2 linked regions of the Homo sapiens genome follow. The protein of the gene in region 1 interacts with the protein of each later gene in a pairwise test. Each region holds a gene or a part of one and is shown on either strand. Other genes may lie near its edges. The genes, in order: TTC1 and SOX5.

Evidence for each region.
Region 2: the proteins of TTC1 (region 1) and SOX5 interact in a two-hybrid assay, tested with the Homo sapiens proteins (one large-scale study listed by BioGRID and IntAct).

What each region holds. Positions count from the first base shown.
Region 1 is NC_000005.10:160,050,605-160,054,428, reverse strand, and holds part of TTC1 (tetratricopeptide repeat protein 1), read right to left. Parts: intron 3,301-3,824; coding exon 3,246-3,300; intron 1-3,245.
Region 2 is NC_000012.12:23,533,462-23,537,285, forward strand, and holds part of SOX5 (transcription factor SOX-5), read right to left. Parts: intron 3,209-3,824; coding exon 2,992-3,208; intron 1,062-2,991; coding exon 758-1,061; 3' UTR 1-757.

The sequences.
Region 1 (3,824 bases):
TTGCCCAGGCTGGTCTCGAACTGCTGGGCTCAAGCAATCCTCCCACCTTGGCCTCCCAAAATGTTAGGATTACAGGCATGAGCTACTGTACCCAGCCAACTTTTTTCCCAGCTATTTAAGAAAACTGTGAAATCATTCCATTAGAGAGAAAGCAAATAAAGCATCAATGACTAGCTCCTCAAAAATGCTCTGAGCCTCCTGGGATGCTATGTCCAGGGTCTCTATTTCCATCTCATCACACTATCAACCACACATACCCTTAAGTCCTTTTAAACCTTACATTCCTTGGTTATTATGGCTGGGAGGCTAATTATCCCAGAGAAAAGGACCAAACAAACAAACAAACAAACAAAAACAACCAACCCCCACTCCAGCTGCTGACCACTTTCCTCAAGTGATCGTCTTGATGCTATCACGATCATCTTCTGTGATCAGCAAGGACTGTGCCACTAGGACTAATGGCCACCCTGGGTCTCTTGTTCTAAAGATTATAAATGATGGGCTAGAAAGGGCAAAGCAAATAATTGTTCTACCCACTAATAATTCCTATCAGGATTTTTTCCCTCAAGGAGTACATAGCTCTTCTTTCTAATGAAAAGGAAATTACAGAGATGGAAGAAAAAACAAGTTAAAGAATACTGAACACATCTAAATAAAAACCCATTTTGTACTACTCAAGGTGATCCACAGATTCAATGTAATCCCTGTCAAAACACCAATGACATTCTTCACAGAAATAGAAAAATCCTAAAATTTGTATGGAACCACAAAAGACTCTGAAAGCTAAAGTGATCCTGAATAAAAAGAACAAAAGCTACAGGCATAGGCATCACACTACCTGATTTTATAATTTTCTTTTTTTTTAAAGACAAGGTCTCACTCTGTCACCCAGGCTTGAGTGCAGTGGCATCATTGTGGCTCACTGAAGTCTCGATCTCCTGGGCTCAAGTGATCCTCCCACAGCAGCCTCCTAAGTAGCTGGGACTACAGGTGCACACCAGCACACCTGGCTAATTTTTTTAGTGACAGGATTTTGCCATGTTGCCCAGGCTGGTCTTGAACTCGGGCTCAGCCTCCCAAATTGCTGGGATTACAGGTGTGAGCCACCACACCCAGCCCACACTACCCAATTTAAAAAATTTTTAACTGCTTATTCTCCATAGAAGCCATCATTTTAACAGGAACTAGCATAAAGATGATGCAGTCCACTGTGAAAAGCTTGCTCAGAACTTCTAAGTGATATTAATTTGCATTCAGAATGTCTAGCCTCTAGGGAATCTCACAGAACATGAACCAAAGTTACCTCATCAGCAACAAGGAGGAAGGAATACCAGAAAAGCTCTTGTGGGGGCTGAAATTCCATGTAAAGAGTGATTTCTCTCTTCTAGGTTATCTATTGTGGGGTAACACCTAGAGCAGTATCTTATTCATGATTTTTATACTCATTAAGGGAAAAAAGGAATCTAGCCATTCAAACTACACATGTGTAACAACACATATTATTTACAAAGCAACTTAAGTTGGTTAAGTCTAATGGCAGGTGAATTCATTTTAGAAGCAACCGAGGGAATGAATTCAATTTGAATTTTTTCAAATGAAGAGAATGACATAAGAAAAACCCAAAGCCTTGGAGACAGAAAATTCTGGTGCATTAGAATTTATAAAGACAAGGACAAATGGAAGTTTTAATTCCATCTGGAACTAACAATAGGCAGTAAGATTCAGTTTGCACCAGTCCCTTTACTGGACTGGCTTTAAAAAAATGGACTAAGAGACCAATGCCTTCCAGATCCACTATGGCCATTCACAAGGTCATCTTTTTTAGCAAGAAATTCAAATACTAAATGCAAACAGTTTTTTTTTTTTTTTTTTTTTTTTTTGCTAAAATAGAGCATCATTGTTAGTAAAAATAGGTGAGAAAATGCTCTTTTCCCTCTTCTTTGAGACAGGGTCATGCTCTGTTGCCCAGTCTGGAGTGTGGTGGCACCATCATAGCTCACTGCAGCCTCTAACCCTTGGGCTCAAGTGATCCTCCCATGTAGCTGGGACTATGGGCAGGCACATGCCACCATGCCTGACTAATTTTTTGTGGAGATGGGGTTTCACCATGTTGCCTAGGCTGGCCTTGAACTCCTGGGCTCAAGCAATCCTCCTACCTTGGCCTCCTAAAGTGCTGGGATTACAGGAGCCACCGTGCCTGGCCAAGTTTAATTAAATATGTAAATTAGGGGAAAAGCTCCCCCATCCCCCTCCCTTTTTTGGAAAATCTGGGGAAGGCTCCAGAGCTATCCTGAATCGGAAGCAGCCGTCTTTACAGTCTGAGTCTACCCGGCAGGGGCCAAAGTCTCTGGATAGTCTAGGTTAATGGCCTCCTCTCAATCAACTTGGCTATCAGAATGATCCTTTGGGAAATTTGTTCCCATTGTCTGGATGCTGATGTCTGAAGGCCATAAATGCCAGACAGGCTCAATTTATTTTAAATGATTTTTCCTTTAGGGCCACATGATTGCAGTTTATAAAATGTAATTCAAACAACAGATTTAGAAAATACTCAAAAAGGAAAATACATGGCAGATCTTCACCAGCGAAATATCAGACAGGTTACATGTGGAAAAGACTTAAGTCTGTGTTCAGGAACCCTCACTCCTCTTACTTAAGCAGATTGCTCGTGGGAGGTTCCAACTCTAAAATGCTTTGGCAAATATGAGAAATAACTAAACATGGATCAAATGAATCCATTTGCCCTACCCCTACCCCCAGTCTGATTTCTCTTTACTCCTAATTCCTGCCCTCTCGTGTGTTCTCAAACACTAAAGGGACTTTGAGTGCCATTTTCTAAATAAAAATTCTCATGATCTTGACTGCATCCTAATGAACCTCAAGGAATGATTATTCAATGAAGAAACTAAACTGTTTTTATGTAATTGTTATCTGAAATCGAGGTTGGTGGTATCCTAGGATTTTAAATCCCATTTAAGCATAATCCCAGGGAACTGAATTATGCTTAAATTCTTGCAGGCAAGAAAAATTTCCAAGAAAATCAAAAAGGAAATCTGGTTTCCAAAAAAAGCCAATACCCTCTCTAAGCCACGCTGCCCCTTCTGGGGTCAAAATAACTCAGAAGTCAGTAGCCTTGTGGTAGAGTCCGAAACTTTCTAACTCATGTGTTCTCCTCTAGTATTCGCTATGTCCCCACCCTAGGTTCCTAGCTGTTTATGATCAAGCAAAGTAAGAAGTAAGCTTACCTAACATCTCTTCTTTTAGTCTTTCATTACGTTCTTCAATTTGCTTAGGTAATCTCTGAGGAAAAGAGGAGAAACAAGGGTTGGTAAAAAAAAAAAAAAAACCAAAACCTTTCCCTTTATTTTGAATTTGAGAAACACAAGAATCCTAATGTGGAAATAAGATCAAGTTAAGTATGTCTATGATCCTATTAAATAAAAAAAAAAAACCCCAAGTATTTATGTTTGTGGTGCGCTACATAAAGACAAAAGTTCTGTTTGGGCCAGGTGCAGTGACTCCTGCCCATATTCCCAGCACTTTTGGAGGCCGAGTTGGGAGGATCGCTTGAGCTCAGGAGTTTGAGACCACCTTGGGCAACATGGCAAAATGCTGTCTCTACAAGAAATACAAAAATTAGCTGGGTGTGTTGGCATGTGTCTGTAGTCGCAGCTACTCAGGAGGCTGAGGTGGGAGGGTTGCTTGAATCTGGGAGGTTGAGGGTGCAGTATGCCATGACTGTGCCACTGCTCTCCAGCCTGGGAGTCAGAGACCCTTTCTCAAAAAAAAAAAAAAAAAAAAGTTTTGTTTGGCTCTGTTTCCAG
Region 2 (3,824 bases), on another chromosome or scaffold:
AGAAAAAATGAACTTGGTCAACACTTCAGTACAAATTTGGCACTTGCTCAAAGATGTAGTGTGGTGTGCAATAGATAAAGTCCTCTAAAGAAAATAATTGCTTATTTTGTGGTGGATAGCAAGGAAGTTAAAAACAGGCTCTTTTTCCCTCTTTCCCCTCATGCACAGACTTCCATCTTTAAAGTAGAGAGATGGAGAAGGTGGAGAGAAGTAAAGAGAAATTCATTTTTCTTTTTTTTCTGTCAGGTGCATTACAAAGAAAAAAAATGAAAGGAAAGAAAAAGAAAAGGAAAAAACCCAGAAACCCCAAAAAACAAAACAAAACTTTTTTCTTTTTAAAAATTGTAGCACAAAACAACAAAACACATTCACAAGCCACTTGTTGGCACTGTGTACCTGAGTGAGAATTTCTAGAACATTGTAGAACAAACAGCCATAAAGTTTATTTAAAAAAAAAAAAAAGTTGACGGGTAAGACTTCAGTGCTTGGATGTAGCAGCTGAATTACTGGCATTATTTTACCCATAGCTTATTTCAATCTCTTGTTGTTGATATTGTTGTTTGCTTGTTGTATTTGTTTTTTCTTTCCAAGCCTTTTGAGGCTGAGGTCTATTAGTCAGCTGATGTCCCAACTATTTAAGACTAACAGTTAAAGTAACAGTCAGTGTATGAGAAAGTTAATGTGCTTGGCCACTGGTAAGGATGAACCAGTTAGGGCTTCTTTAAGTCCTAAGGTCACAACAATCTTTTGACCCTTATCAGTTGGCTTGTCCTGCAATATGGTTTTCACTGTCACTCCCATAATCTACATCTGGATCATCCTCTTCCTCGTCGTACTCATCATAAATTTCTCCATTGATGTCCTCGGCCTGTATCTCTTCTTTGATATGTGGCTCCTCTCCTTTCACACCGTAAGTGCTCTGGATAACAGGCATCCCAGGCTCTGGGCTGCTAGACACGCTTGAGTGCTCCGAGGGCAGGTGAGGGGAGGGCATCCCAGCCATGGCGATGGCTCCAGGGTACACAACACCAGCAGTGGCAATGGGGATCTGTGCTTGTTGCCTGTCAAGAAAGGAATTTCCAAAAAGACATCGTGGGTAAGTGAATAGTTAGATGTGGACTTTACTACATAATTAATTTGCTCAGCAATGTCCAATTCTAAGGTACTAATTTTATCTAATTGCCTAACATTTTTCAAACTCCATCCTACTTGAACTTTAATACCTTGTTTTTCTTTTCTTTTCTTTTTTTTTTTTTTTTTTTGAGATGACGTAGTTTCGCTCCTGTTGCCTAGGCTGCAGTGCAATGGCGTGATCTTGCCTCACTGCAACCTCCCCCTCCAGGGTTCAAGCGATTCTCCTGCCTCAGCCCCCCAAGTAGCTGGGAATACAGGCGCCTGCCACCACACCTGGCTAGCTTTTGTATTTTTAGTACAGACGGGGTTTCACCATGTTGGCCAGGCTGGTCTTGAACTCCTGACCTCAGGTGATCCACCTGCCTCGGCCTCCCAAAGTGTTGGGATTACAGGCGTGAGCCACCGCACCAGGCCTAATACCTTATGTTTAGGTAGTGCTTTATAGAGTACAAGATATTGACATGTGTTGTCCATCTTATTCTTAATCCTGTTTGTTACTACTGTTTTATTAAAAAACTGAGGTGCAGAAAGATGAAGCAGAAGAACCCAGGTCCTTGATTCCAAGTTCATTTTTCTTTCATTATAACATGCAGAAATAGTATTTTTCCCTAGAATTAAATCTAAAGATAATTAAATTTTAATGGGAAAATCCTAAAGCATTAGAGTTCTCAAAATAAAACTTTACTGCCCAGAACACACCAGAACTGAACAAATTCACACTGTCCACTGAGTCTCTGAAACAGTTCTGGCCTCGTAGTGGTAGGAAGCAGGAGCAGCTTCATGGATGTACAAACTGTGCAACTGCACTAAGGTCCCATACTTGGTTTAAAGTTGTGCTGCCACAGACTTGAAATTCTTAATAACTTTTTAACAAGAGACCCTGTCTCCTCATTTTTGCATCTGGTCCTATAAATAATGTAGGTGGTCCTATTGGAAAGGATGAATAGATGATGTGCATTTATGCTTGTTTTTATTCATTCGTATGTTTACTATTTGCCCAAGAACTGTTGGGCATTGTGTTTAGCTTTGTGAGGAGTCATGTGCTTGCATATGAATCACAGACCACTGGACAGAGCATGCAGCCTCTTCCAAGGAACTGGAGGGGACAGAGCAGATTTGGAAAGGTTTTATGAGTCCTTCTCTGCCCATATTTAGAACAATATTTATTATTCTAAGAAGCTCTTAGAAACTAACTTCTGTTTCAAATATGAACAACTTTATTTTGGGTTTTTGAGAGAATTCTATAGAAGCAATGCATTTCTGTAGCCCATCTACAGCACTGTCAACAACCTTGCCACGGGAGCATTGTAAAACATCTCGGAGCTGCGTTCTCAATTCAGAATGAAACCTCCTGTTCCCAACCTTGTTACACCCTAAATATAATCCCTAGCTTGTGTGATCCACAAAGGCCACACATGTACCTTGATAGCTCACTAACCTCTCTATATTTAGAAATAAGTATTTTTGCTTTTGAAATGATTTTTATTTTGTATTGTCTCAACAAAGTTGTTAGTTTTAGAATTTATCATGGTGAAGCTTAGGAAGTAATGCAAACCAATGAAGAAAAGAACCAGTTATACTTCTAAGTTTTTAATAGAAAACTTCAAAATCATTTGCTTGTAGATATCTTGTTTTTAAACCAGTTGTTAACAAATCTCATGGTAGAGCTAGGAACTTGCAGTGGATTCATATGGACATATTTTTCAAGATCATGTGGGAGACTATTTGTCTCTGAAAATACTGTGAGCTCAGATTCTTTTTCAAAATGTCTTTTTGCAACTGAACAAATATGTTTCACATCCCATTAAGTATAACAGGAAGTTTGCCCCATGAGAAAAATGACTAAAAGGTACATACCCAACATTGAAGTACTGCCGCATTTCCTGCCGCCTGTTGCGCATGATTGCCTTGTATTCACCAATGCGCAGCTTTTTGCCATCCACCAGGCAGGTGCGCTTTGGCCTGGGCTTGTACTTATAGTCAGGGTACTTCTCCAGGTGCTGCTTGCTGAGACGGGCTTGCTCCTCATAATATGGCTGTTTCTCTAGGTTTGTCATAGCTTTCCAGCGAGATCCTATGAAGAAAGGAGGTTAGGATTCCAATTTGCACAGCTTCTAAGCATTCCAGAAAGTGATATGGCTGAGAACAAGAAAATCTAAAGTTGAGATGTTAGCCAAAACCCAGAAATACATAAACCTGTTTTTGATTAGTGAGATCCCACAAGAACAGAGGTGGTGGTGGTTTTGTACCTAAAGATATAAACACTGGGCAGTATTTTTTTTTTTCTGGTTTGCATTCTAGCCAAACTTTTGTATTATGTCCCTTAAAGCTCATAGATAATTTAATGGATACATTTCTCATTTCTACATTAGATCATGATATAATTCACATGTGAACAGAAAAGTTACATGATATGTTATCATGCATTTTGAATCTGAGACTAATTATCTAGTTATTGAATATTTTTATGTGGGAGATGTTTTTTACTACAAAAGTTCCCAACATATATCATGTAGTCTCATCCTCCCCAAAATGTTTAAGTATTTTAAGCTTACAGGAATGGTAGTAATTAAAAATTCCTTTGATTAAACATTTAATTATAATTAAAATTATAATATTAATAAACATGGAGTGGGTAACTACTATGTGCCAGACACTGTGCTGAAACCTTGACATACTGATGTCTTTTT